Linked DNA regions of Homo sapiens: region 2 is linked to region 1. A link means that fine-mapping ties the variant in region 1 to the expression of a gene that starts in the linked region. Tissue or cell type: fibroblasts. Region 1 holds a variant in brackets; the other region holds the start of a gene. All regions are shown on one strand. Distances are from middle to middle.

Region 1 (15,202 bases):
ACCAGGTACCTCAGCTGGAAATGCAGAAATCACCCGTCTTCTGCGCCAATCTCGCTGGGACCTGTAGACCGGAGTTGTTCCTATTTGGCCACCTTGAAAGTGACCCTAAATCATCAATTTTTTAATTGGATTGCTTGGTTTCTTTGGTGTGGTTGAGTTATAGGAGTTCTTTCTATATTCTAGATGCTAATCTCTTATCAGATAAATGATTTGCAAATATTTTCTCCTAAAAACAATTGTTCAAGTTGACATGTTGATATAGTTTGAATGTATATTCCCACCAAATTTCATGCTGAATGATAACCCCCAATGTTGGAGGTGGGGTCTGGTGGGAGGTGTTTGGATCATGGGGGCAGATCTCTCATGAATGGCTTGGGCCATCCTCTTTGGTAATAAATGATCTCTTGGTCTGAGATCTGGTTGTTTAAAAGTGTGTGGCATGGCCCCTACTCTTGTGCTTACTCTTGTTCCCGCCATGTCATGTGCCTGCTCGCCCTTTGCCTTCCACCATGATTGGAAGCTTCCTAAGACCTCCCAAGAAGCAGATGCTGATATGCTTCCTGTGCAGCCTGCAGAATTATGAGCCAATTAAATATATTTTCTCTATAAATTATACAGTCTCAGGTCTTTCTCTTTCTTTCTTTTCCTTCCTTCCTTCCTTCTCTCTCTTTCTTCTCTGTCTTTCTTTCTTTCTCTTTTTCTCTCTTCTTTCTCTTTCTCTTTCTTTTCTTTTCTTTCCTTTTCTTTCTTTCGAGACAAGATCTCACTCTGCCACCCAGGCTGGCGTGCAATGGCTTGCTCATAGCTCACTGCAGACTTGATTTCCTAGGCTCAAGCAATCCTCTTGCTTCACCTTCCCAAGTAGCTGAGACTATCTGGGTAGGTGTGAGCTATGAGGTGTGAGCCACCACGCCCAGATAATTTTTAAACTTTTTGTAGAGATGGGTTTTTGCTATGTTGCCCAGGCTGTTCTCAAATGCCTGGCCTCAAGCAATCCTGGCCCCGTAAAGTCCTACAATTACAGCCGAGATCCGCCATGCTCTATTTCTCTATTGCAATGCAAGAAGGGCCTAACATACATGTCTTAATTGTTTTTTAAGCCAGAAGACATGTCATCAACAAAATTCATATGTTCAAGCCTTAACGTTCAATGTGACTATATTTAGACATAGAGCCTATGAGAAGGTGATAAAGGTTAAATGACATCATAAGGGTTAGACCCTAATCCTATAGAACTGATGCCCTTATAAGAAGAGACAGAGCAGCCGGGCGCAGTGGCTCATGCCTGTAATCCCAGCACTTTGGGAGGCCAAGGTGGGGAGATCACTTGAGGTCAGGAGTTTGAGACCAGCCTGGCCAACATGGTGAACCTCCATCTCTATTAAAAAAATGCAAAAACTAGCTGGGCGTGGTGGTGGGCACCTGTAGTTCCAGCTACTCGGGAGCCTGAGGCAGGAGAATTGCTTGAACTGGGAGATGGAGGTTGCAGTGAGCCGAGATCACGCCACTGCACTCCAGCCTGGGCAACAGAGCAAGACCCTGTCTAAAAAAAAAAAAGAGGCAGAGCCTGGGTACAGCAGCTCACATCTGTAATCCCACACTTTGAGAGGCTGAGGTGAGAGGATCACTTGAGGCCAGGAGTTCAAGACCAGCCTGAGCCACAAAGTGAGATCCTGTCTCTATAAAAAATAAAACTTAGCCAGGTGTGGTAGTGTGTGCCTGTAGTGGCAGCTACTCAGGAGGCTGAAGCTGGAGGCTCATTTGAACCCAGGAGTTGGAGGTTGCAGTGAGCTATGATTGCACCACTGTACTCCAGCCTGGGCAACAGAGTGAGACCCTGTCTCAAAAAAAAAAAAACAAAAAAAAAACCCTAAAAAAAAAAAAAGCAGAACAGGCAGAGGTACAAGGCTCTTGGTCTGTCTGTCTGTCTGTCTGTCTGTCTCTCTCTCTCTGTCTTTCTCACTCTCTGTCTCTACCATGTGAGGACACAGTGAAAAACAGGCCATCTGCAAGCCAGGAAGAAGGCCCTCACCAAGAACAAAACCAGCTGATATCTTGATCTTGGACTTTTCAGCCTCCAGGAATGGGAGAAATAAATTTTTGTTGCTTAAGCCACCCAATCTGTGGTATTTTGTTATGGCAGCCCAAGCTGACTACTATGACGTATATTTTATGATTAAACTAGTGATACATGCTGATGGGACAGTTTCAACAAACATAAAAGGAATAAAGAAGTAAAAATCATTTGAAACCCTGAAACCCGGAGATAATCATGTTATGTTATGCATCCTTCCAGGCTTCTTCCTATGCATGTAGAAAACTTTTCACAATCCAGATGCTGTTTTGTAACCTTTTCTTAGCAATAAACACAAGTGTACATGATGGTTTTGTTTTGGTTTGTTTGGTTTTTTTGAGACGGAGTTTTGCTCTTGTTGCGCAGGCTAGAGTACAATGGCGTGACCTTGGCTCACTGCAACCTCTGCCTCCCGGGTTCAAGCAATTATCCTGCCTCAGCCTCCTGAGTAGCTGGGATTACAGGCATGCGCCACCATGGCCGGCTAATTTTGTATTTTTAGTAGAGATGGGGTTTCTCCATGTTGGTCAGGCTGGTCTTGAACTCCTGACCTCAGGTGATCTGCCCACCTCAGCCTCTCAAAGTGCTGGGATTACAGGCACGAGCCACCACGCCCGGCCACGTGGTCGTTTTAATGCACTGCAAAATACTCCACTGAACAGATCTACCATAATGTATTTAATCAGTCCCCTAGTGATAGAGATGTAGGTGATTTCTAATTTATCATTATTGTAAACAATGCTTCATGAAGGCCTTTTATGTATATCTTTGCATGTTTGTCCAATTTGTTCAGTGGGATGAATTCCCAGAAATTAAATTTCTGGGCCAAAGGATATGCTTATTTAAAATGTTGACATCCTGTATATTGCCAAATTACCTTCCAGAAAGGCTGAACCAATTTATACTCCTACTGTGCATGAGAGTGCCCACTGCTCCACACCCTTGCCAAACTGGCATGCTTTCAACAGCAGTAAAAATAGGTTCTTGTCTGCTTTTCTCCTATGAGTCCTACCAAGTGCATGATGTGAAAGTGAATGAGAGGAATATAAAGTTGACAGATGGGAGGTATTTTGGTCACTGTAATGTTTTATCTAAAGCACACCATTTTCCTCTCAAAACAAGTGTGATAGATAAGCCCCCTTCATTTTTTAGTACAAGTTCTAGGACATAATTTCCTAAATGGATTGATTCCTTAGAGAATGAATGTCTCTGAGGATGTGGAAATTATTCAAGCCAAATGTGCTTTGGGCTGATAGAGGATATACAATTTTGACATAGCAGTATCTATGTGACCTCTTTTTTAAAGATGCAAAGTATAATATTTTTGCCCTGTGCTATCCAAAGTGTCATACTGCAGCCTACTCTGAATGTACTCATTCATTTGCCTGAAGTTCCCACAGAGAAAAGTTTTCTCTGACTTTGTTTTATATTGAAAAAGTTTTTTAATTGAAGTATAATTTACACACAATATGAATAATTTTTCTCTTTAAAATCTGATTGTGAATAACTGCAACCTTCATAGATAACCTTTCATTACATTAAATGAGAGAGAAAAGCTCTTTTTTTTCCTCGAGACAGAGTCTCACTCTGTTGCCCAGGCCGGAGTGCAATGGTGCAATCTCGGCTCACTGCAACCTTTGTCTCCTGGGTTGAAGCCATCCTCCTGTCTCAGCCTCCCAAGCAGCTGGGATTACAGGGGTACGCCACCACACTCAACTAATTTTTGTATTTTTAGTAGTGACAGGACTTTACCATGTTGGCCAGGCTGATCTCAAACCCCTGACCTCAGCTGATGCTCCTGCCTCAGCCTCCCAAAGGGCTGGAATTACAGGTGTGAGCCTTCGTGCCCAGCAGAAAAGCTTATAATTAAACACACACTCTTTGAAAAGCACAGAGAAAAGAGAATGGAGTTTTACATGCAGCTATTTCACTCCTTAGTTGTATGGTCTGAAGCACATAATTTAGCACAATACGCTTCTTTTACTCTCATCTGATAAACTAGCAAAATGAAATCTACACTACCTTCTCCATAGAGATGTTGGAAGCACATCCAATATCTCTAGGAAGGTCCTTAGCACTATAGTGAGTTAAATTATATATATTTTTAAAAATGTGCATCCAGTCAAATATATCTAATCTACTTGTATCTGATCTTAAAGTTTTTGTGCTTGAGGGGAATGTATTTCTTTTTCAAATGAAAACATGTTGATCAGATAAATGTTTACGATGGAAAATTATCCTTTTGTTTTGGCATTAATGTCAATTAAAAGCATTCTGAAACTGTTCAGCTTCACTGATGATATTAATGAACCTTACATGAGAAAAAGCCAGAAAATAATTAGCATAATTATAAAATGTGAACTGTACATTAATAATTCTCTTTGTTTTTTCCCTTTTAGCCACTTAATAAATTGTGTGTATCAAATTATTATAAATGTGGTACTTCTGATGTTAGCAGAATTATGTTTTAAAAGGCATAACAATAATATTTGTTTAATTTAGAAAAAAGAAAGATCACTTTACATCCTGTTATCCTAGTGATACTGTGAATACAATTGGTTAATGCAAATATAATTCATACTACTGAATTGTACACTTAAAAATGGTAAGATGATAAATTTTATCATCTTTATAAATTTTCAAATTTATATTCTAATATCGTCTTTCTTTTTATTTATTTATTTAGAGACAGGGCTTGCTCTTTCACCCACCTGGCCAGAGTGCAGTGGCACTATCATAGCTCACTGTAGCCTTGACCTCCTGGGCTCAAGCCATCCTTCTGCCTCAGCCTCCCTAGTAGCTAGGACTATAGGCTCTCAGCACCACACCCGGCTAATTTTGTTTTGTTGCTTTGGTAGAGATGAGTTCTCTCCATGTTGCCCAGGCTGGTCTGAGATTCCTGGTCTCAAGCCCTCCTGCCTTGGCATCCCAAAGCACTGGGATCACAGGCATGAGAGCCTTGCCCTAATGTGCCTGCCTGTCTGCCTGCCTTCCTTCCTTCCTTCCTTCCTTCCTTCCTTATTTCTTTCTTCCTTCCTCTTTTTTTTTTCTTTTTTTTTTTTTTGAGACAGAATCTTGCTCAGTCGCCCAAGCTGCAGTGCAGTCGCACAATCTTGGCTCACTGCAACTTCTGCTTCCCGGGTTCAAGCAATTCTGGTGCCTCAGCCTCCCAAGTAGCTGGGATTAGAGGCACGCACCACCATGCCTGGCTAATTTTTGTATTTTCAGTAGAGACAGGGTTTCACCATGTTGGCCAGGCTGGTCTCAAACTCCTAGGCTCGAGCAATCCACCTGCCTGAGCCTCTCAAAGTGCTGGGATTACAGGTACCCAGCTTTTCTTTCAACACACTGGTTAGGGGTGAATGCTTATCCCCTCAGCTCTCTGTCTGCTCCCCACGAGTGACAGCTTGGGATGCTTGGGCTTCTTCCCTTGTCTCACTCTCTCCTCGGGAAAAAGCACCTTCTTTGGCAAGATTGAGGGAAAGAATTGCTAAATGTGTGACTCAGCCCCTCTTTCTCTCTGAGTGGCCAGACCTTAAGGACTTGACTTACCTTGCAATAAGTTTCCTAGAGTAAGCCCTGCCCTGCAAAAAGGACTGAAGTTAGAAGAGGTTTATTTTAATTCAGGGAAGTGAGTATCAGTAAGCCCATTTGGCCACAGACTATGCCACATTCTCCAACCAGCTTTATTAGCTGTGAACTAATGTTTTTTAAAAAATAATTTTTATTGTGGTTTAAAAAAATAGATGACATAAAATTTATCATCTTACCATTTTTAAGTGTACAATTCAGTAGTATTAATTATATTTGCATTAACCAATCTCTACCAGTCTCCAGAACTTTTTCCTCTTGCAAAGCTGAAACTCTATATCCATTAATCAACAATTCATCATTTTCCCCTCCTTCCAGCCGTTGGCAACCACCATTCTACTTTCTGTGTCTATGATTTTCACTACTCTAGATACCTCATAGGAGTGGAACCATGCAGTGTTTGTCCTTTTTGTGACTGGCTCATTTCACTTAGCATGATGTCTTCAAGGCTCATCCATGTTGTAGCATGGTGTCAGAACTTCCTTCCTTTTTAAGACTGACATTTTGAGCTCCCAGATTCCCTGCTTCTATGTCTCCACTGACTCAAAACTGAGAGCTAGAGGGAGGGTGTAACTAATTTTCATCCCCTCAAGCCCCATCCAACTGGATAATAGTGTGTTGTGGTAGACATCTATTGTTTTCTCTGGCCAGGGTCAAATAGCAAATCTGGACAGAGGTAAAGTGAGACTTTACTCAAAAGGGTTATTGCAGTAAGAGGAAGAGGACTATTATAATAGAGAGAATGCTCTGATGGTCAACTGTAAGATCTGCAAGCATCTCCAAGACCAGGCAGAAAAGGGCTTTTCTTTTACAGGGAGGAGGAAAGCAGGCTGGAAGGAAGCAGGTGAGGTCTACCAGGATGAGCAGGTTATCCTGCGGTGCGTCAGGGAACAGTTCCCCCTGCTGGGTACGCTAGTCTCAGTAGGGGCCATTAAGGAGGGCTTGTTCCTAGCTCTAATGTTTAAGGGTGGGCCAAGTTCAGGGACTTGGAAGAATGACAGAGGCCTGACTAAAGTTTAGCCCAGTTAGCAGGCATTTTGTCCAGATTGGCCTGTGGAAACAAACAGGTCAGCTAATCATTTATGAGTCAAAGAATGGGAAATTAGAGGATCTCTATATGGCTTTGTCATAGTTAGACAAGGGGGTCACTCCAAGTCTCTAAGTCGTATGGGGAAGGGCAATTATTTGCTGTAAGTCATTTCCTGGAACACAAAGGTTGGAGGGAGGCTGGGCGCAGTGGCTCATGCCTGTAATCCCAGCACTTTGGGAGGCAGAGGCAGGCAGATCATTTGAGGTCATGAGTTTGAAACCAGATGGCCAACATGGCAAAACCCCGTCTTTACTAAAAATACAGAAATTAACCGGCGTGATGGTGTGCACCTGTAGTCCTAGCTACTTGGGAGACTGGGGGAGGAGAATCACTTGAACCCAGGAGACGGAGGTTGCAGTGAGCCAAGATCTCACCACTGCACTCCAGCCTGGGCAACAGAGCAAGACCTTGTCTCAAAACAAAACAAAACAAAACAAAAAAGTTGGAGGGAGATGGTTTCCTGATCCTTGCTGTTTTCCAGGGGCACAGGGCTTGACGTTGTCACTAATACCCTTTCCTACTCCAGGTGTTGACAGAACCCCTCTTTCTCATGGAAAATCCACCTCACTTATTTTGAGTGAGGCTGATCCCACTTTCTACTCATACGGATGGACATGTGGCCCAGGCCTTGCCAATTCAAATCACTTATTCTCTGATTAGTATTATTGCTCCAGCAAATATGTAGATGCTCCAAGCAGTACCGATCAGTCTCTCCTGAGATTTGATCATGTAGATGCTGGGAGAGAACCCTGATATGAACCCAGCCATGCCTAGCTTAGGTCTACCTCCAGACTTCCCAGTTATGTGAACAAATAAAACCCCTCTTTGCTTAACTGTGTGATTCTTTTGTTATCCCCCACCCCACAAATAACTATGTTGTGGGCACTGAGGCCTTGTTGGCTTGGGGTGTTTGAAGGATCCTGGCTACCTCTGATTCTGGAGGATTTCAAGGGTCTTATTTTAGTTCCAACAGTGAGACTGTTGACTGCAGAGTTGTGGCTCTATTTCAAGCTTGAGTAATTTCATCTGCCCTCCTTGAAAAATTTTACTGCAAGATATTTAATATTCTTTCTTCCTTCATAGACTTCTAAACATCATGGAATCTCCTTGATCATGTTTCACTATTCAAAGGTAAGTCCTGGCTGGATGCAGTGGCTCATGCCTGTAATCCCAAAACTTTGGGAGGCCAAAGCAGGTGAATCCCTTGAGCCCAGGAGTTTGAGACCAGCCCAGGCAACATAGGGAGAGCCTGTCTCTACAAAAAGTTTAAAAATTAGCTGGGTGTGGTGGCGTGTGTCTATAGTCCCAGCTACTCAGGAGGCTGAGGTGGGATGATTGCTTGATCCCAGGAGATGGAGGCTGCAGTGAGCCAAGAGGTCTCACCCCTGCTTTGGAGGGAAAAAATATAGTATCCCAACATAAATTTTTTAAAAAAATCCTGTTTTTCCTTTAAAAAATAAGCTGTAATGCCCTAGATGTTAAATTGATTTTCAAGTTATTATTATTATTTTTAATAGAAATGGGATCTCATGCTGTCCCCAAGCTAGAGTGCAGTGGTATAATCATAGCTCACTGCAGCCTCAAACTCTTGGGCTCAAGAGATCCTCCTCCCTCAGTAGCTAGGACTACAGGTGCATGCCACCATGCCCAGCTAAGTTTTGTTTTGTTTTGTTTTTGGTCTGGTAGAGATAAGGATCTGAATATGTTGGTTTAGGAACACCTGGCCTCAAACGATCCTCCTGCCTCGGCCTCCCAAAGCACTGAGATTACAGGCATGAGCCACCACACCAGGCCTCGAGTTCTTTTTGATAAATTATATGAACAATAGATTAACATAAAGAATGGAAGGAATCGTTTTTGCGAGTTTTCAGGGATAGTGCATGAAAAGGCCTCATAGAAGAAATAAAATGGGGACACTCATATAAACCACAAAGCTTTAGTTTACATTTGACATTTTCCCAACTTCAACAGATAGATCTACTTAATGACTAGATTGATCTGGTAAATTAGAAAAGTCATGAAATGGATCATGAAAATGATTTAAAATGTTTTAATTATGGAAGGGAAAAAATAAGAAATAGCAGCTAATCTTCCTAAGTAAATGTGAAAAAAAAAAAAAAGGTAATTTAACAAATATTCCTGGAATGCCACTTATGTGCTAGTCACTGGGGATATAGCAATGAACAACACAGACAAAATTTTCTGCCGTCATG[A/G]ATCTTCTAGTAAAAAATGCACCAATAAAATAAAATGATGAATCTCCAAGAATAAACAACATTTGTGTTCCCAAGGCAAGGGAGCCTTTCACTGACTTGACATTTTGCTGCTCTCTGTTTGCTGGAAATTGCCCTATACCAGCCTGGGCAACATGACAAAACCCCATCTCTACCAAAACCACAAAAATTAGCCAGGCATGGTGGTGCATACCTGTGGTCCCAGCTACTCAGGAGGTTGAGATGGGAGGATCACTTGAGCCCAAGAGGTTGAGATCGCAGTGAGCTGAGATCACGCCACTGCACTCCAGCCTGGGTGACAAAGCAAGACTCTGAAAAAAAAAAAAAAAAAAAGAAGGAAGGAAGGAAGGAAAAATAAATTGTACTATACCAAAATGTTACAGTGTTCATCTCTGAGTGATTTTTTTATTTCTCCTTAATATTCTTCTGCATTTTCCAAATTTTCTACAATAAGCTTCTATTACTTTTTAATCAGAGAAGTAACTTATTAGGGGGAAAAAACCCTAATAAACTAGAAGTTGAAATCCTTCAGTGCAGAGGGCTGACCTGAATACTTGCCTTTGGCACCTTCCTGAACTGAAAAAGTCTAAAAAGCAGGACTTGTTGCTTTCACTTTGGGTAACTGTCCCCCTCCCTCCTCTCATTCTTGAGCTTTCCTGATGTATCCTAAAGCAATTTGTTTTATAGTATCACATACCTTTTTTTTTGTTCACTTTTAAACATTCTGGGTGCCTAGAGCCTTGTCTCTTTCTTGCCTCTCTCTCTCTTCTTCCTGACTACCTGGTTCTTCTGACCTTTTCTCTACAAAGATCACCACTGTTCTACCTCTCTGTGGACCAGATAAACCCTATTACTCCACATTGCCCTTGTCCCTTCCAAGTCTAACTACCACTTTTCAACAAACTGAACTCTCTCTCGGTTACTATGGCATCCCCTGAAAAAATGTCAGTCAAAGCTTTCTCCTATACGCTTACATTTCTAAAAGTTGTTTAACAAATTTACGAAAGAATTTTTTTAGCCCCTGATGGGCCGAAGCATTATGTTACAGTCTTTGAGAACTTAAGGTCATAATAGATAATTCTTTCATTTTGTTTTTTATAATTGGTTTAATCAGAATTTTATTGTTACAATCAATAGTTGCTTTACTTTTCTCTCTCTTTAGTTTAAAGAAATCCCTAGCAGTTTCCCTATTTTTTTTTATTGGTTCTTAGTATGAAAGTTGCATTGACTTTTTTTTTTTTTTTTTTTTTTTTTTGAGATGGAGGTTTGCTCTTGTCGCCCAGGCTGGAGTGCAATGGTGTGATCTCTGCTCACTGCAACCTCTGCCTGCCGGGTTCAAGCGATTCTCCTGCCTCAGCCTCCCAAGTAGCTGGGATTACAGGTGCCTGCCACCATGCCAGGTTAATTTTTTGTAGTTTTAATAGAGACAGGGTTTCACCATGTTGACCACGCTGGTCTCAAACTCCTGACCTCAGGTGATGCACCTGCCTCAGCCTCCTAAAATGCTGGGATTACAGGTGTGAGTCACCACACACAGCCACATTGACTTTTATCAATGTAAAGGGAGAAGTCACTTGATATTTAGGTAAATTGTTTAATAGTATTTTATCTACTTTTTTCAAATTGGTAAGGTGTATTTTTCATGCCTTAAAAATGTCTTTATTGAAGTATAACATACAGTAAAATACATTTAGTGTATTTAGTGAGCTTTAGTGTACAACTCAGTTTTTTTTTTTAACATAGGTATATTCCCATTTAACCACCACCAGCTCAAGACACAGAACACTCCCAGCAACCCCACAATTTCTCTTATCTCTTCCCAGTCAATATCCTCTTGCCCCATACTCCTAGCCTACTCTTGCCAGAATAGTTACCACTATTCTGACTTCTATCACCATTTATAAGTTTTGCCTATTTTTAAACTTGAAATAAACAGAACCACCCAGTATTTACTCTTTTGTTTTGGCTTCTGTAACTCAACATTATTTTCCTGTTCAGTTGCGTCATCATTTTTTTCTTTTTTATTACTGTATGGTATTCCATTAAATAAATATACTTCAATTTATATATCTATTCTCCTGTTGATGGACATTTAGGGGTTTTTCGATTTTTTAGTATGATGAGAAAAGTTATTACAAACATTCTTGTACATGTCTGTTGGTGGACATATGCACTCATTTCTCTTGGGTATATACCAAGGGGTGGAATTGCTGGGTCGTAGAGTAGACATACTTCTACTTTTGGTAAAATTCTTAACATATTTGCATGGCACAAAATTCAGCAGGCACAAAAGAGTGTACAGTGAAAAGTCTCTCTCTTATCTACATCTCAGTTCTACAGTTCTCTTCTCCAGAGGAAACCATATTACCAGTTTCTTACGGAAACATACTTTGTATATAGAAGTATATGTATGTATAGTCTTGTGTTTTACACCAAAGCTACTACACAATCCAAACTCCTTTACACCTTACTTCTTTCACTAAACAATTTATCTTTGGGATTAGTCTATATTAGTAACGTTGAACTGCTTCATTCCATTAAAGCAGCGGCCCTCAAACTTTTTGGCACAAGGCACTGGTTTTGTGGAAGACAGTTTTTCCACAGAGGTCAGGGGCTGGGGAGATGGTTTTGGGATGAAACTGTTCCACCTCAGATCATCAGGCATTAGATTCTCATAAGGAACACACAACCTAGATTCCTCACATGTGCAGTTCACAAACGGGTCCGTGCTCCTATGAGAATTTATTACTGCCTCTCATCTGACAGAATTCGGAGCTCAGGCCGTAATGCTGGCTCACCTGCTACTCACTTCCTGCTGTGCAGCCTGGTTCCTAACAGGCCATGGACCCGTACCAGTCCATGGCCCAGAGGTTGGGACCCCTGCACTAAATGACTGCATAGTATGCTAACTTGCACATCTAAGAATATATCTGTAGGATGAAAACAGCTTTGGGCATTTAAAATTTTGCCTTAATTATATAAGAAAGCCTGTTTTCCCCCACTTTCACCAACACAATGAGTTTGTAGACATTTTAATTCTTGCTAGTCTTAGGTGGAAAATGGTATCTCATTGTACCCTTAAATCTTAAATCTCCCTTAATATAAGGAAGGTCTTTCCATATGTAAAGATTTATTTTTATTTCCTGACCTGTAAGCTGTTTATATTGTTTGTGTATTTTTCTTCGATTATTTTTTCTTATTTTATAATAATTATTTATATATTAAGGGAATTAGCCCTCGGTCTGTGATATGAGTTACACTTTTTTAAATGAAAATTATTTTATTTTAATTTTGAGACAAGGTCTCACTCTATTGCCTAGGCTGGAGTCCAGTGGCACAATCATGGTTCACTGCAGCCTAGACCTCCCAGGCTCAAGAGATCCTCCCACCTCACTCCCACCTCAGCCTCCTGAGTAGCTGGGACTACAGGTGCACACCACCACACGGGGCTAACTTTTTTTTTTTTTTTTTTTTTAGAGATGGAGTCTTGCTATGTTGCCCAGGCTGGTCTTGAACTTCTGGGCTCAAGCAATCCTCCCAGCTCAGCCTCCCAAAGTGCTGGGATTACAGGCATGAGCCACCACCTCTAGCCTGAAACTCATATAATACATAGCAATTTAAGCTCCCACATATATTAATTTAGAAAGGATTGCAACTTAACAAACATTTATTGTGCCAGGCACTGCGAAAAGTGCTGAATATATAATAAAGATTGATTTGTACCTTTAAAACACTTACAATCTAAGAACAGAAAGACACTCCCAAACCAAATGATCATTACTTTATCATTTGGTAAGTTTTATTATAGGATAGACGTGTACACTACATGCACTTCAAGCTCAACGTGTCCAAAACTGAGTTTGTTGTCTTCTTCTAGGACCTCTTTTTCCATTGTTCCGTATCACAGATAATGGCATCATTAGTCACTCAGCTGCTTTGTTTAGAAACCTTGGAGTGATCCTTGAGTCCTTTCTCTCCTTCACTCTCAAAATGGATTTGCCATTTATCTGAAAGATCATTGTGAAGGACTGTAGGAAGGAGGAGGCTGGTGGCTGAGAAACTATTAATTGCATTAGTCCAGATAGCAATCGATGAGGTAGCAACCATGAGAATGGGGAAGAAGACAGAAGAGGGACTTGATGATTTTTAAGTATAGCCAGTGAGGAAGAGTTGGGGATAAGTTCCACATTTCTGGCTGAGTGGATGATGGAAGTCATGCATAGAGATGGGGATGGAGTGCGTAACTGTTTCAGGAAGGGAAAGATACAGGATTCAGTTTAGACATTTTGTGTTTGAGGTCTGGTGTGACAACCAAATATAATTTTAAGTACAGTACTGCCAACTCCCACTTTCCTGAGGTCATAAAAGGGCATGTTACTATGGTTAATTAAAAATCGATATGGATAATTCTTAAACTGTCCCTCTTTATTGCTCACGGCTTTCCTGGGTGTTCACAGTCTTCCTGGGCGCCCTGGTCACTGGCCCTGATCCAGCCACACCTTCTCACAGGTACTCTTATGAAAATTAAGCCCTGAAATAGGCAGAATATTGTCTGGTTTGAGTCTCACAACTTTTTCTCCTAGATAGAATTAAGGAGGCAATGAACAGCCAAAACAGAAACAGGAGGGAGTTGTGAGAGAGTAGCAAAGGGGTTGAATAATTTGAAGCATAGTTAATTGGCCTTTGAATAATCAGATTGCTACAAAAGTATCAGCTTATTTACTTTTGAAATATTATATTACCCCCATACCAGGAAAATAAAGGAATGAGGGGGAAATTACCTATAATCCAGTCACTCCCATAGGACCACTCTAAGCATTATGTAATACTATACTCGCTCCCATTTTTTCCCAGCCTCCTTTTCAAATGGTTATAAGTCACAGTGTAATCATTAATTGTCTAAAATGAATAGTGGTATCCTGGTGGCATAAGATAATTTTTATAAGTGGCCTTAGAGGAACATTGAATATAAAGTAAATGATCATTGTACCCTCTTTACCCTGCTATAAATCATTACTCTCTTTAAGGACATAGAAGGAAATGTGGGCTTATGTTCCAGGTACCTAACATACAAACAGGAAGTCGTGCAGACCTGAGACAGTCTGGTATATTAGCACTGAAATACAGCTACCTTTTAAATTAGTAAGAACTTTTTTTTAACTTATGTATGTTTTGTGGCATGGTAGCATGAAAAGATCACTGGTCTTAGAGGTGGGAGACTCAGGCTATAGTCCTAGCTTTGGCATTAACTGTGTGGTCTTGGGTTTAGTTTTCCTTCTGTACTAAATCAATTCAGATCTCCCGCATACCTGTCAGTGAGTGCGTTAATGTGACCCTGTTTGTCCGTGCCTGATACATGCCCACCCCTGAAGCTGGAGGTGAGATCACCCCTCTCTACACTAAAAAGACCTTGAGTCGGGAAAGAGTCCAGCCCCCAGAATTCCATGGGATGGGTTGTTACCAGAAGGGGAAATGGATTTGAGCAGGCAAAAACACTAGATGTTATCTAACTTTGTTCTCCGTATCTTTATCCCCAAAATGAAGGGATTGGTGTAAAAAGTTCTATTAATAAGTCTCTCTAGATCTGCCTTCACAGGATTGAAAGTACAGAATTGTACCAGTTGAAGTATGAAAAAAACTATGCTCTTCATTTGACTTCTAATTTGTGGTATCTACTCTCTATGACTTCAGGGCAATTTCATGAGTTCAGACCAGGAGTTTTAAACCAGGTTCCTGAGTGACTTTCCTGTTTTTGTGAGCTGTCTGTGTATACTTCCTGCAGAGAGAATGTTTTATTAATAGCAACATATGCCCTGAAACAACATACTTCTTTGACCCCAACACCGTTTTTATCTTTGGAAAACCGATGATGTGTTACTAAGTGTTAAGAATAGTTTATTATTTACTGTGCAGTTGCCAAACCGAATTTATTTTTACTCAAACTGGACAGTACCTGGCTAATACAATGACTCCCCCAAATTCAAGTTTTTCGCGGCATGTCGTCTTATTCTACAAGCTGGGAGAGTGTGTGAGATCAAAGGAATGTGCAAACAGGCCGGAGCCATGGCTCACGCCAGTAATCCCAGCACTTTGGAAGCCCGAGGCAAGCGGATCACTTGAGCTCAGGCATTCAAGACCAGCCTGGGCAACATGGAGAAACCCGGTTGTATTAGGGTTCTCTTAGAGGGACAGAACTAATAGGATATATAAAATATT
Region 2 (15,202 bases), 67 kb after region 1:
GGAATAAGTGAGGAAAAGAGCAATTTCATTACCTAAAGAAAGATAGTATTAAGTGAAAACATGCATTGAAGGGCAATAAGCAGTCTAACAGAAGTCTAAGTAGAAGTCTAAATAAACTTCTTTTGTTGATTTAATACTGCTCTGATTTGGAAAGAGGTATGCATATTGTAATATGATAGAAATAGATTATGATTCATACTAGGGAGGACTGGAGAGGAGAAGTGGATCAGAAGAAGGCACAAAGTTGAAAATTATTAGTTTGATCATTTGCCTCAGTTGATCCAGGACAGTCTTAGTTTTACATTTGCTGTCCCTGTGTAATTATTATTTATTGTTATTATTATTTTGAGATAGGATCTCACTCTATCACCCAGGCTGGAGTGCAGTGGCACGATCTCAGCTCATTGCAACCTCTGTCTTCTGGGCTCAAGTGATCCTCCCACCTCAGCCTCCCAAGTAGTTGGGACTACAGGCACCCACCCTATACCCAGCTAATTTTTGCATTTTTTTGAAGATATGTGGTTTCACTATGTTGCCCAGGCTGGTCTTGAACTCCTGGATTCAAGCGGTCTGCTCACCTTGGCCTCCAAAAGAGCTGGGATTACAGGCATGAGTCACTGAGCCCCACCCCTGTGTAATTATTAATAATGTCTTTGTTCACTCTCAAAGTATCCTACTTTGGATGATAGACTATATGGTCACCTTAGAAATAATGGAAATAGTGGAAGCATAGTACATATTATTGGTGCCTTTACTACGATTGGTCCAGTAGTACACTAGTCCCAGTAACTCAGGAAGCTGAGGTGGCACAATCGCTGGAGCCCAGGGGTTCTAGGCCACAGTGTGCTATGACTGTGCCTGTGAAGAGCCACTGTAGTTCAGCTTGGAGCAACATAGTGAGACCCTTGTCTCTAAAAAAAGAGTGCACTACTAGTAATAGCTAATACTTTTGAGTCTGCCAAGCACTGTGATACTGCGTTAAATACTTTATGAGCATTGTCCCATTTAGTTTTCCTAATAATCTGTAAGGCAGTATTATAATCTCCTTTCTAGAGAAGAGGATGCTCAAGTATATGTTTATAGGTGTTCAGGAACTTGCTCAAGGTCACTCAAGTAGCCAAGTTTCTAATTCAAGCAGTCTTGTTTCAGAAGCCACACAAATAATCATAATGCATTATTTATTTCTCTCCCCATATTTAAAAACTTCATAAGACATCTGAAAGAAATTCAGCTTTGATAGTTTACAAAATATATAGCATAGAAAAAAAGATTATTAAGCATATACAAGAGGAAAAAAAATCAGTTTTCCAAAAGCTTTTCACAAATAGAGGCAGACTTTCCATGCGATGCATAAAATATTTTAAAAAATATGCTTGAAATGTCGAAACATGTTATGGGAGAGGTGATTCCATTCTCAAAGTATTACAGAATCCATAATATTGGTTCTTGCATGTACAGCCTCTTTTGAGCCAAAGAACTTCTTTCCTGCATACTTGCCACCCTAACCTCCTGGCCTCTCTATCAAGAGTCTAAGATGGAAGTAAAAAGGGGGAAGTCAAATCCCTATTAAAAATACATGTTATAGTGCATTTTGATCTAATTGAACCAATGTTTCTAGACTTCATTCAAATCTAACCCTATTCTAGCCTGAAGATTCACTTTTCCCAAACACTACTCTACTAAAAACTGGTTTTAGGTAACCAGTTCTTTACTAGGGGTCTGGTAAAGGAGAAAAGAAGAATTATCATCCCAAACTTGTCCTTGCCCTCTATTTTTGTCTCCTCAATGCTCCTGTGCAGGTGCTTGGCTGGTATGGGGAAGTGACAGGGGTATCCTTTTTAAAAGTGGATGAGCTCTCCCTTAGAGCAGTTTTTCCCCCCGATGGATGCTGTGTACTTTCCTTGGAATGCTTAAGGCCCTAAGCTTTCCTTCAGTTGAAATAGCTTATCTCTAGCAGACAGTAATTCCTTTCCTGAGCCCAGCCATTGGGAAGGGGAATCCCAAAGAAAAGATTTTCTGCCTTTCACAGAGAATCATTCAGAGAATCACAACAGGGAACTTGAAGCTATACTATCAATAAACATTAGTTAACTTACTCTCTAAGGTGGTCTTGGAATTCAGTTAATTGTTGCAGACTCACAGGCAGCCTTGTTTAAGGTGGGGTTTTAGTTCTTCTTTAATCATAACTGAAAAGTTAAGTCCATCTTAGTGTAACGTCCTGCGGGAGGATTTTCAAAGGAAACTAATCTGTAAAGCATAGAATGAGAGTACCTTGTAGAATAAATGGAAGATTTGGCTCTGTGTGTGCTGCTTATATGAAACAAAATTAAATACTCAGTGATTAATAACAAAGATGAATTGTTGTTTGTGATTGCTGAACACTCTGATCATATACCTGCCATTTCACCCTTCTGTATGCACACAGATGCAGAATTCCAGAGAAAATACTTTTTAAACAGATTATTAAGGAAATATTTGACAAAATAGGTAACTACAGTTGACCTTTGACCACGCAGGGTTGACTGCATTGGTCAATGCAATTTTTTTTCAATAAATATATTGGACTTTTTTTTGAAGATTTGCAACAATTTGAAAAACTTGCAAACTGTGTAGCCTAGAAATACTGAAAATTTTTATATATGTCATGAATGCATAAAATATGTGTAGACACTAGTCTATTTTTATCATTTACTACCATAAAATATAAACAAACCTATCATAAAAAGTTAAAATTTATCAAAATGTAGGCACACACTTACAGACCAAACATGGTGCTATTTGTAGTGGGGAGAAATGTAAACAAATGTAAAGCTACAGTATTAAATCATAACTGCATAAAATTAACTGTCATGCAAACTGTACTACTGTAATAATTTCATAGCCACTGCTTGGTGCAATTGCAGCGAGCTTAAGTGTTGCCAGTATTCGCTTTAAGCTGTGTAATGCTAATCATCTCTGAGTGAGCAGTTCATCTCTCCAGTAAATTGCGTATTGCAGTAAAAAGTTCTCTCTCATGGTTCTCACGTATTTTCCATCATGTTTAGTGCAATACTGCAAAACTTTAATAACACTATGGCATCCATACGAAGCACCACTGGTGATGCTGGAAGTGTTCCCATGAAGCAAAGTCATGACATTACAAGAAAAAGTTGAACTGCTTGATATGTACCATAGACTGAGGCCTGCAGCTGAGGTTGCCTGGTATTTCAGACAGACAATTCATCTTGTAAACAGACAATGTAAACTTATGGTATGGACATAGTACATTACTGTGAATGTAGTTTCTCTTCCTTATGATTTTCTTAATAACATTTATTTCTCTACTTACTGTAGGAAGACAGTACATAATACATATAAGATACAAGCAATGTGTTAATCAACTGTTTTATGTTATCAGGCTTCTGGTCAGTAGTAGGCTTATTAGTAGTTGTTCAGTTTTGGGAGAGTCAAATGTTATATGCTCACATAGTTGGTTGGTGCCCCTAAATTCCATATTATTCAAGGGTCAACTGTATTGACAAGTGTATCCTGGATTCCATCCTCCTTTCTTGGTTTTGTAGAGACAAGGTCTCACCATGTTGTCCAGGCTGATCTTGAACCCCTAGGCTCAAGCAATCCTCCCGCCTCAGCCTCCAAAGTGCTGGGATTACAGGTGCGAGCCACTGCAACCGGCCAGATTCCATCCTCTTAAGGCCAGTGTATTAGGTGGCTCATTCTTACAGTATGAGTAAGCAGGACTTATTTAGCCATCAAAAGGGTCCTTTTATTGCCTGTAATCCTCTACTCTCTATATAACGCTCCAAGGAATGAGACTATATTTCCGTCTCCTATCAACTCAGCCTCAGCATATGTTATCTCTAGTTATCTCTATTTTTCCCTTCCAACAAAAGCTGCTTTGGGGAAACAATCTGATGAATTAGGTATAAATGACTAATAAGGATTAAAATATTACTTTTCCCAGGATTATGGTTTTGTGCTAGAGAAAAAAACTACTTAAAGGGATAAAACTCTAATGGCAGAATTTCAGGTGAGTTGGAGGGTTTTTGATTATAGGTACTTTTCTAGCCTAGATGGTAGTCTGTCAGATTGGTCCTGAGTGTGAGTATAAATTTTAAAAAGGCTAGGACCAGGGCAAGTCTTAGCCTAAAGCAGTGGCTTGATCAGTTAAGTTTAGAGAGGAGGGTTAGGTTTACTCGAATCTATGGCATCACATTTAAAGGGGTCTCGAATCAACCTGAGATTAGAAGCAACACTGGAATCCCAGAATCTAGCTGGTTTTCCACTAGTATGGGAGATATTCCATCCTGGGATGCTTTAGGAGAGTGACCCTTTCAGTTCAGAGCTATGCCACTGAGTTCTGATCAGGCGCAAAACGGTTTTTGAAAACGGAGCAAGAAATCTTCCCAGCGATGATTACAAATAGCTTGTACAATATGCTAACTTTAGCTTTTTATGCAATGGTTAAGATTCATTTTCACATAGATATCCAGCTTGGTAACACTGGCATAGCTGCTGCCATTTCCTAGCTTCCAGCGAATACTCTTACCTCTAATTCAGCACTGAATATATCTGAACACTTCAGTACTACCTGTAAATCTTCAACTTCTGCTGTATGCTAAATAACCTAACATCTGTATTAATTCCAGCAGTTCTTCAAGTAGTTAAAAATGCTCCCAACCTGAATAAAATGACTTGAATATCTTCGGCGTTATTTCAAGTGTTTGCAACTAATGTACAACTCATTTTGGTAAATGATTACTTGGTGGAATTTATGAACTCTTTCCATTGGCAAGCCAAAAAAAAAAAAAAAAAAAAGGTCTGTAGGGGATATAGCTCTTTATTCAAACTTGGTAATAAATAATTATCTCTAGAATACAGACGGAAGAACTGAACCAGGGACTTCAGGGACCCAGAGGCTAATTATCATCACTGTACACAGTTAAGTGCAGCAGAGAATGGGGGTGACGAATGGTTCGCTCCGCATTACGCTCCTTCTCTGGGTAAAACAAGGCCGTCTTTTCTGTGAACATATTTAAAGCAAGAACTGCAAAAACTGTGCAATGTTATGGTTGAGGCTTTCTATTTGCCATATGTGTTGACAGAATGCTTAAGAGTCTCTCTCCGCAATAAACGCGAACCCTGCCAGGCTGAATTATTAGGGCCAGCGCAATTCAACGACTGCACCACCACCGAACCGCTGGGGTTGGAAGCCTGCGTCGCATCGGAGCGTACCCATGTTTCTTCTAACAAAGGCACGATCTTGAGGCCATTTCGCGGGCCCTTTTCCCACTCCCAGCGCCAGCTTTGTCTCCCCGCCGGTATGAGGCTGAGACTTGGAGGAGGCTGAGCTGCGCCGCTGGGGAACAAGCTCGAAGGGCGGGCGTGGGAAGCTGCACCGCGCTGCCGCTGTGGTTTCCTGCGACCTGACCGTGCCATTAGAGGAAGTTGGAGTGCTGCAGCTGCAAGAGATACCTGCTGCCTTCAAATCAGGGCTGGACTCCAACAACCCCTGTGCACCGATTACTGTCGTACAAAGAAACTCCATCGGCCGGCGCGGCGGAGGCCTGTGGGCTCTCTATCTCTCTGGCTGGGCGCTGGGCCGCGAGCAGACAGCAGGGTCGGCGTTGCCAGCGTTCCCCACCCTGGGGGGCTCGGGAGTCCGGGAGTGCGGGGTCGGGGAGCGGGCAGGGAGCAGCGGGCAGGCCTCGAGGGGCCTGGGCCAGAGTGGGCCTCACGGCGCGCCTTGCACGCGAACCCACGGCCGCCGGCTGCCCCTCCCCCGGCCCCCGGCCCGCTGCCCCCAGCCGCCGACGTCGGCCCGCACCGCCCCCGCGCGCTGACTGGCCCGCGCAGGCCTCCTGCCCGGCTGTTGGCGGTTGGGGCGAAGCCGGCGGGAGGCCGCCCCGCCCCCGCCCCCGCCGCAGAGTCGCGGCGCGCAGCCTCTTCACCCGTCGCGGCCGGGGCGGTGGCGCTGTTGCCGCCGCGGCCTGTGAGGCAGTAACTCCCCTCCGCCCCTGCCCCATTCCTCCTCCTTTCTCTCCGCTCCCTCCGTCCTCCCTCCCCTCGCCGTCTCTCGCTCGAGTGAATGTGGCGCGGCGGCGCGGGACGCAGTCTCGGCCCCTGCCGCGGCCCCGCAAGCTCGTGAGGAGACGGAGCTGCCTCCTGCTCCCGCCCCCTGCGCGTCTCGGGGAGCCACCGCCGCTGGCGAAGGAGAACAAGCAGGGCAGCGGAGGGACGGTGGCGGGAAAACGGGAGAGGGAGGAGAAGAGGGTTCGAGGGCGAGTAGGGAAAGCGGGGAGGGACGGACGGAAGGACGGACGGCCCGACGGACGGCCCGGGGAGGGGGCCGCTATTGAGCCTGCCCGACTCCTCGGCTCCGGCTCCGGGTGGCGGCGGCAGCGGCGTCGCGGACGAAGGGCGCGGCAAGCGCTATCGAGACAATAACCCTGCCGCCCGGCTCTGGGGGCAACGGAGAGGAAGCGGTGGCGGCCTAGCGCGGCCGAGGCTCGCCGAGCGCCCGGGCAGCGTCCTCGCCCCCGCCGGCCGGGTGCTGCTGCCGTCCGGTGTGCCGGGCGCGCCGGTTGCCCGGAACCCGAGGCTCCCGGCGGCCGTCCCCTCCCCTCCCCCTCTCCGGTGCGCGCGGAGCTGGTTTTCCGGGTTCCCCTGGACGGAGCTGGATCCTGCTTCTCGCCAAGGCAGGAAGTGAGTTTCGCACTGCAATTCCGGGCGGTGTCACGAGTGAAAAGTTTTGTTTTTTTTTTTTTCGGCGGAGATCCTCGTTGGGGCTGGGAAACTCCTGCAAAACTCGAGACCAGGAAGCCAGCCCGCACCCCAACCCCCACCAAAGCCACCTACTCTTCTTCTGTGGGAGGCCAGTCCACATCCGCTCTCACCCGAGAGAGATATTCAGCTGGATCCAAAGTGACTGATGAAGGGAAGGAAATCATGTCAAGCGAAGCCTTGAAAAAGCTGCCCTGAGACGGTGTCCCGCCGAAAGGTAATTTTCACGAAAAGTGTCTCTGAGTCACAAAGTTCATGGGACTTTGTGACTCGGAAAAGAGATGATTCTTTAGTGTTTTTCACTCTTCTCCAAGTTGCCCTAAACCCTCCTTTTCTCATATCGAAGCGGTTAATAATTGAGGGGCTAAATAATCGAACTGCACCCCACCGCGTCCCTTCTCCCCCCTGCCCCCCCCACCATCTGGACTTTGAATTTTTTGGAAGAGGTTGTAAGAATGCGGTGGGACGAAAAGTTTTTAGTAATCCGAAGAACGATTGCCTTTGTTCAGCACAGGGGCCAGAAGTTTTGGCTTTCTGGAACGTATAGAGTGTATATTAAGTTGCTCAGCCAGGCACCTTCTGTTTGGGAAGAAAGTTTGGTCGCTGCAGTGAGTGATTTGCTGTTATTGAGATGGCTGCCGCGTTTGTTTATACTCATACCGATTATATTGGCGCTTGCGTTAATTGTATATAGAGGTATTTATTTTTATTTTTTTATTTCCAACCCTGATCAGTATATTTAGTTAGATTTTAGAAACCAAAAAATCTTGCCATTCTTAGTTGTTTTTCAGGGTGAGTAATATATTTCTTTAGTTGTGTGTAGTGTGTGTTTTTCAGACGTTTAGCGCCGTATAACTTGTTTAATTAATTGAAAGCAAGGATCGACTAGGCTTTTCTTGTAACTGATCCATTACGAAGAAAAAAGGAGTAAGGACTAAGAATAGGGAGAGATAATTAAACAACATTAACAACCTGTAAGACGTTTAATAGGACTTCTGTACAGTTCAGAACAGACGATGGGAGGGGAAGTAAAACGCTTAAAACGATTTTCAAGGGAATCACAGTGATTGTGATAAAAAGCTGTGCTTTTCGAGTAGTATGGTCTTTACATTTTTGTGTTGTCCCAAATGTTTTTGGTCGGTTCTGCATAAATAGTGATAGGTTCTGCCTACATCTGTGGGGGCAGGATTCATGAAGCATGGCAGACATTCCACCAGTCAGAGCTATGAACACTTCTGAACCAATGGGGACTAGTTTTGATAGCAGTAAACCCAAAGTTTTTTTCAGTGGTGTTTTAGTCTTTTTCTGTTTACTTTTTTTCCCGGTATTTTTGCGGTACAGGGAGGTGAAATACAATACTGTACTTTTGAATATATATTGAATAAATTTGGTAATCCTGTTGGTAGGTATATCCTAAATATATATTGATGTTTAGATTGCCTATGCTGTCTCACGTAATGACCGGAAACCCGAGGAGAGAGTTGATTTTCTTTAGTTCAAAGAGAAAAAATAAGTTTTAAAGATCAGGATCAAATTATTTCACAATTTGTTCTTTGCTACTTCAGCTTCATTAAGTACATCTCCAAAGGCAGTCCTTTATTTATTACTGTAGTTTTGATTTTTTTTTTCCTCCCCGGGGCATGGTCTCAGGAGATTCTTTTTTTTTTTCATTGTTGGTAAGATTTGTGAACCATGGAATAATTCTTGTTAAGTCAAACTAGCTTTATCAAAGAATTTAAAGTGCATAACTCATCTACTTTATGATTTTGGAACGTATCATTAGGCTGCAAAAGAGGTTATTCTTGGGCATCTGAAAGAGGTGAACAAAATAAATGGCATTGAACTTCAGTTTCCTTATATGGCTTATACTTGGCTTCAAAAGCAACAAAACCTTAATAGAGCAAGTCCCTTACAGAGAATTATCGCTTTATGAAGATGGTTATTTATTAGTAAATTTTGTATAAAAAAAGTATTGTAGCACTTGAAAATGACTATTTAAGCCTCTATTTTTAGATTTAGTTCTTGATTTTTTTTCTCAGGAGAAGAGTAGTATGTTTCGATGCAGACAACACGTTTTATGAAGTGAGGTGTTCACCTTTGTGTTTCTTTTTTTTCTCCTCAACAAGGCATAATTTACTTCGTAGTTTTCTTGGAATTCTGTTAGTTTATCACCGAATTAACTTAAATTTTAGGTTTTATACTATTGTGAAACTATAAGTATTTTCGAAGCTTTGTTTAAACTGTGACAAAGGTTTGAAAAGAGGTTAATAGAGGAGTCATCCGTTAAAATATTTTTAAATGGCTTCAAAATTTGGATATTCTTCTAGTATGGTGTGGATTTTCAAAGATTAAATTGGCAAATAGAGAGTACTTCCAAAGTCTATATTGCACAAAATACACACTTAAAGGCTCTGTTTATTGAAGGTAATCATGAATTTTCAGGACTTCAACTGATTCAAGTAGTACTGTTACGAGGTCTCCTTGCCATTTGAGATCAAACTATTGTAAACTTTATGTATAAAAAGCTTACAGAGGTACAAACATGGAAACCAAATTTTTATTGTATGCTGTTTCTTAATGAAGTGATAACTATAGATACATTAACATATATCATTGGCAAATCTCAAAAATCGATTATTTTACACATTGTTGGTATTGCACTATTAGTAGTAAATAATACCCTTTAAGAAATAGTTAAAAGTTTCAGAAAATAGGTGTATATTTCAAAATTACTTATTTGAAATAATTGCTTACGGATAATACGATTTAGACTTTAAGCTGCTTTTGTTTTGGAAATAGATTATGGCAGTACTTACAGAGTATTTGGGATTATGCAGAATTTTAGTGATGCTGGGTAGCAGTTTCTTTTTTATTTTTCGTAATTGCTGCTTATCCAGATTCTCCTTACATACCCTACTTGGCTGCTTGCATTTTGACTCTTTGCCTTGCTCATTCATTTCTTGAATTTGTTACATGCTTGCTTCCGTTTTCTTTTTCTGGGAATACATCTCTATTATAAACCTCTAAAGATGTCTTTGTCTTTTCCTCTTTTTTTTTTTTTTTTTTTTCGAGATGGAGTCTTGCTCTGTTGCCTAGGCTGGAGTGCAGTGGCACAATCTCGACTCACCACAACCTCCACCTCCCGGGTTCCAGCGATTCTCCTGCTTCAGCCTCCCAAGTAGCTGGGATTACAAGCGCACATCATCATGCCTAGCTAATTTTTGTATTTTTAGTAGAGACAGGTTTTGCCATGTTGGCCAGGCTGGTCTCGAACTCCCGACCTCAGGTGATCTGCCCACCTTGGCCTACCGAAGTGCTGGGATTACAGGTGTGAGCCACTGAGCCCGGCCTACTGCTAACTCCCATTTTTCAGATTCACTTTTTAGCTGTCTCTTCTTAGGTTTCCTAATTGTAAAAAAGAAACTTAGCTGCTATTCAGCTTTCTCTTCTGATTCCCTTAGCTTCCTATATTTATAGTTAGCTTCATTTACCTAGCCTTATTTTCTCTGTGTTCAGTTGGTCGTTCTTAATTATATTTTGCCATTTCCCTCTTTTCCAAACTGTTAGTCTATGTTTATCACCTCAAAAAACTGTTCAAAACATGCAGTGGAAAAAGTTTATCTGATCTTATTTTATTAGCCCATTTAATTCTGAATATCCCCTTTGCATTTCAACTAAGTGTACATGCTGGTATTTTAACTTTATATTCATCAGTATATTGCTTTGTTTATTTTGAGATGGAGTCTTGCTCTGTCGCCCAGGCTGGAGTGCAGTGGCAAGATTTTGGCCCACTGCAAGCTGCGCCTCCCCCAGGTTCACGCCATTCTCCTGCCTCAGCCTCCCGAGTAGCTGGGACTAGAGGCGCCCGCCACTGTGCCCGGCTAATTTTTTTGTATTTTTAGTAGAGACGCGGTTTCACCGTGTTAGCCAGGATGGTCTTTATCTCCTGACCTCGTGATCTGCCCACCTCGGCCTCTCAAAGTGCTGGGATTACAGGCATGAGCCACCGCTCCCGGCCATTGTTTGTTTTATACTTTGTTTTCTCAGTTTTCCTTTTTCTCTTTAGTGTTCTTAAAATTGACTGTTAAGATAATACCAGGTTGTTATTTATTCTTATGTATTAAGACTTTGTAACCCTCTCTACCTTCTTGTTTTATTATACTTTTGGCCTCTTAAAACATACAGATATATTTCTCTGTTCCTTCTTCTCTGTACCTTCCTCTTCTGTCCTACCTTTCAAGTTAGATGTCTTCTCTGACACAGAATCCCTAAAATTTTGAAATTATCTTTCTTTGATTTCATGAAATAAGCACAATAGTACTCTATCACTCTATTTTTGTCACTTCAAATTTTGTTCCAGACACCATTGAATGAAGGTCTTGCCAGGCTTTAAGTGATAGTGTGGAAGACGATAGAAAAGGAGAATATCTAAAAATTCACTTTGTGGAAGACGATAGAAAAGGAGAATATCTAAAAATTCACTTAATAAGACTCTACTTATCTGGAGGTTATTTATTATAGCTTTAAAAGCATATTGAATGTAGTAGAAAAACTAGAAAATAAAAAATGACATCTCCTTAATCACAACAGGTATGACAGAGTCTGGGGACTTCACTTTTAGGGCCATTATTATTCAGAGCCCATTTACTTATGTACATAATGAGCTGTTTTTGGTTCTTTGGTATCCCAGAAGGCGTGAGAAAGGTACGTTTACAGCATTGTGAAGTTATGACCTGTGGTGTTACAGTGAAGCAATAGAAAAATGGAAAGATGACTGAATAACTTAGAAAATAATCTGGGACAACTTACTTTGAGGCTAAGTGCCTTGTACATTTCATTTCCCTGTAGGAGGATTCACTCTGTTATAATATGGTATAATTACAAGAAATAGTAATAGTCCTAAGGCAGCTGTTCTCAGACTTTTTGGTTTGACTCAAAACAGAAATTAAAAAAAATTAATTTATTTGAAAATAAGCTATTGCATGTTAGTGTAACATTGTTTTAATAAAAATATAATTGTTTTCTAAAATAAATAGCAAAAATAGTGGCAATGTTTTATATTTTTGCAAGTCTCTTATGTTTGGCTTAATAGAAAACAGCTCGATTCTCATATCTGCTTCTTCACTCCATCTGTTACAGTATGTTCTTTTGGCTAAAGTATATGAAGAAAATCCAGCCTTATACAGGTATTTGGTTGGAAAAGGGAGGAAGATTTTCTTTCTTTTCTTTCTTTTTTTTTTTTTTTTTGAGATGGAGTTTGCTCTTGTTGCCCAGACTGGAGTGCAGTGGTGCAGTCTCGGCTCACCGCAGCCTCTGCCTCCCGGGTTTAAGCGATTCTCTTGCCTCAGCCTCCTGAGTAGCTGGGATTACAGGCATGCGCCACCATGTCCAGCTAATTTTGTATTTTTTGTAGAGACAGGGTTTCTCCACGTTGGTCAGGCTGGTCTTGAACTCCTGACCTCAGGTGATCTGCCCGCCTCGGCCTCCCAAAGTGCTGGGATTACAGGCGTGAGCCACCGCGCAAAGTGCTGGTCACAAGGTCAGGAGATCAAGACCATGGACAACACAGTGAAACCCTGTCTCTACTAAAATACAAAAAATTAGCTCGGTGTGGTCACAAACGCCTGTAATCCCAGCTACTCAGGAGGCTGAGGCAGGAGAATTGCCTGAACTCGGGAGGTGGAGGTTGCAGTGAGCCGAGATCGCGCCACTGCATTCCAGCCTGGCGACAGAGCAAGACTCCGTCTCAAAAAAAAAAAAAAAAAAAGACATAAACCTGGGAATATGTAGTGGTACTATTGCAGCTTGAAGGCATTGCCTTTGTTCTTGTAAAGGTGTTAGCTGTTGCAACCATTGCTTTTGCAACATCAGTGTAAAATGTAAATATAATGGAAAAGGGAAAAATGACATTTCAATATTATAAACACAGTTTTGACCTGGAAGGTTCCTTGAAAGTGTCTCAGGGACTTCCAGAGACTGTGGACTTCCAGGGCCTATGGACTGCACTTCAAGAACTTAGGTGGAAGTTGGGATTTATGGAACTTTCATTAATTAAATTTTTTTTCTTGTCTGTTCGTATTGGATTCTGGGAGAGTGTTGAAGCTTGATCTTTAAGCCCACTTACTTGATTTTCATTTGTTTTCAGTTATTTTGTTACTTGTTTTTGGAACAGAGTTTCTAAGAATTCTAGTTTTTCATAGGAGTTATTTTTGTTTTTATTTTTTTGAGACAGGATCTCACTGTGTTGCCCAGGCTGGAGTGCAGTGGCATACTCACGGCTCACTGCAGCCTCGGACTCCTGGGCTCAAGCTATCCTGTCACCTCACCTTCAGCCGAGACTATAGGCATGCACCACCATGCCCGGCTAATGTTTTATTTTTTTTTGTAGAGATGGGTTCTTGCTCTGTTGTTCAGGCTGGTCTTGAACTCCTGGCCTCAAGCAGTCCTCCCTCCTTGGTCTCCCAAAGTGCTGGGATTATGGCATGAGCCGCTGCACCTGGCCCAATTTTGGTTTTCTAGCCCTATTTTTGGTCTGCATGTAACCTTTAATCTCTGAGATGTTCTTTTAACATTGTCTTTTGTTTATTCTACTAACACTACAGAAAATTTGATCTTACTGTGCTTTTGGTGTATGTCATGCTTTTTGTTTTTTCTTCAAATACTAGATTTTCATGGTAGTCAAAGTTTTATATGATGACCTAGTCTCTACTGTATTGGTCATTTAAATATATGTTCCCAGCCCAATGAATCCTTCTTCTGGCTTTGGTGATTGCTTAGAAGAGGAAAGGGAGAAATATTTAACGAGTTTCTCTTTGAAGGTATGTGGGTAGCTTGACCTTTTGGTACAGGTGCTTACTGTTCCTCAGGAGGCAGTCTCCTTTTTTCATAATCACACTGTCCAAGTGTCACATCTCCTACATACATAGAGCTGTACTAGAGGCTTTAGCTACACAGTGTTTTACTATGGTTTTGCTCTCTGGCTGACCGCTCAGGATATGCTTCTCTTAATCCTTCTTGCTAAGAAAACTCATCTTTTTTGGAGATCCCACTTTCTTCTTGTTTTGGGTGTCTGGTTCCTCAAGTGTATTGCATTTTGTTATTTCCCCGACCCCAGCCTACTTTGTATTCTTTATAAATTCCGTTCTGTTCTTATCTGTAGGTATACCCCTCCCAGGTTTTCAGCACTGCTATAGATATTTTTAAATTAAATTTTAATTTTTGAAACAATGACTGACATATGGAAAAGTTTGAACATTTTTTTTCCTGAACCATTTGACTAAGTTGCTAACATGATGCCCTGTCGTCATCCCTAAATATATATTTTTTTTTATTTGAGAGCTCTGTCGCCCAGGCTGGAGTGCAGTGGCGTGATCTTGGCTCACTGCAAGCTCCACCTCCTGGATTCACGCCAGTTCTCCTGCCTCAGCCTCCCAAGTAGCTGAGACTATAGACGCCCGCCACCACGCCTGGCTAATTTTTTGTATTTTTAGTAGAGATGGGGTTTCACCGTGTTAGCCAGGGTGGTCTTGATCTCCTGATGTCATGATTTGCCTGCCTTGGCCTCCCAAAGTGCTGGGACTACAGGCGTGAGCCACCGCGCCCAGCCCGTCACCCCTAAATATTTTAATGTTTATTTCCTACAAACAAGGATATTCTCCTGCATATAATGACATCATTACCATCAAAATCAGAAAGTAAACATGAATATATTACTAACATCTGAACCTCAATTATCCCAATAATGTGTTTTACAGCAAACTATTCCAGTTTGGAATCATGTGTTACATTTTGTTGTCATCTCTTTATTCTCCTTCAATCTGGAATAATTTCTTTCTCTTTTTTTTCAAGGCCTTGACACTTTTGAAGATCTGAAGATGACAGGCCTAGTTATTCTGTAGAATACCCCTCAATTTTCATTTGTGTGATATTTTTCATGATTAGATCTTTGATTAGATTTTTATGATTAGATCTTTGGCAGGGTTATTGTAAAAGTGATGCTGCATTCTTCTTATTACGTCTTATCAGGTGGCAGGCAATTTCAGTGTGTCCTATTATGGTATTCACTTTATGTGATTAAAGTTGTGGCTGCCAGACTTGCCCTTTTTAAGGTATTCATTCCCTGTTTGTAATTAACTAATATTTTGCGGTAGGTGCTTTGAAACTATGTAAATATTTTGTTTTGTTTGTCATATTTTAAATTCACTTATTTACATGTACCTAGGTTTATCTTCGCAAGGACATAATGCATTACTATTTATTTTGGTGCTCAAATTGTTCTTGATTGGCCAGTGAGAACCCCCTGGCTTATTTTCTTTTTTGTTTTTGATACCTCTTCCTTTTTTGAGTACTCCTTGTTTTTTAGCACAATTAGATGTTCTAACATATCTTCTACTTTTCCTGGTTGTTTTTAGTGGAAAATGAT

Evidence for each region.
Region 2: it holds the start of ERBIN, and the variant in region 1 is fine-mapped to the expression of ERBIN in fibroblasts (GTEx, PIP above 0.99).

What each region holds. Positions count from the first base shown.
Region 1 is chr5:65,852,970-65,868,171 of GRCh38, forward strand. No RefSeq gene overlaps it. Among named protein-coding and RNA genes, the nearest start is that of ERBIN, 66 kb to the right of the region's middle. The variant A/G (reference allele first, on the strand shown) is at 8,969.
Region 2 is chr5:65,919,810-65,935,011 of GRCh38, forward strand. It overlaps ERBIN (erbb2 interacting protein), which reads left to right and starts at 6,766. Exons shown (of 26, transcript NM_001253697.2): 1 at 6,766-6,997. RefSeq lists enhancers at 4,866-5,490, 4,990-5,209, 6,115-6,739, 6,700-6,919 and a silencer at 5,530-6,619.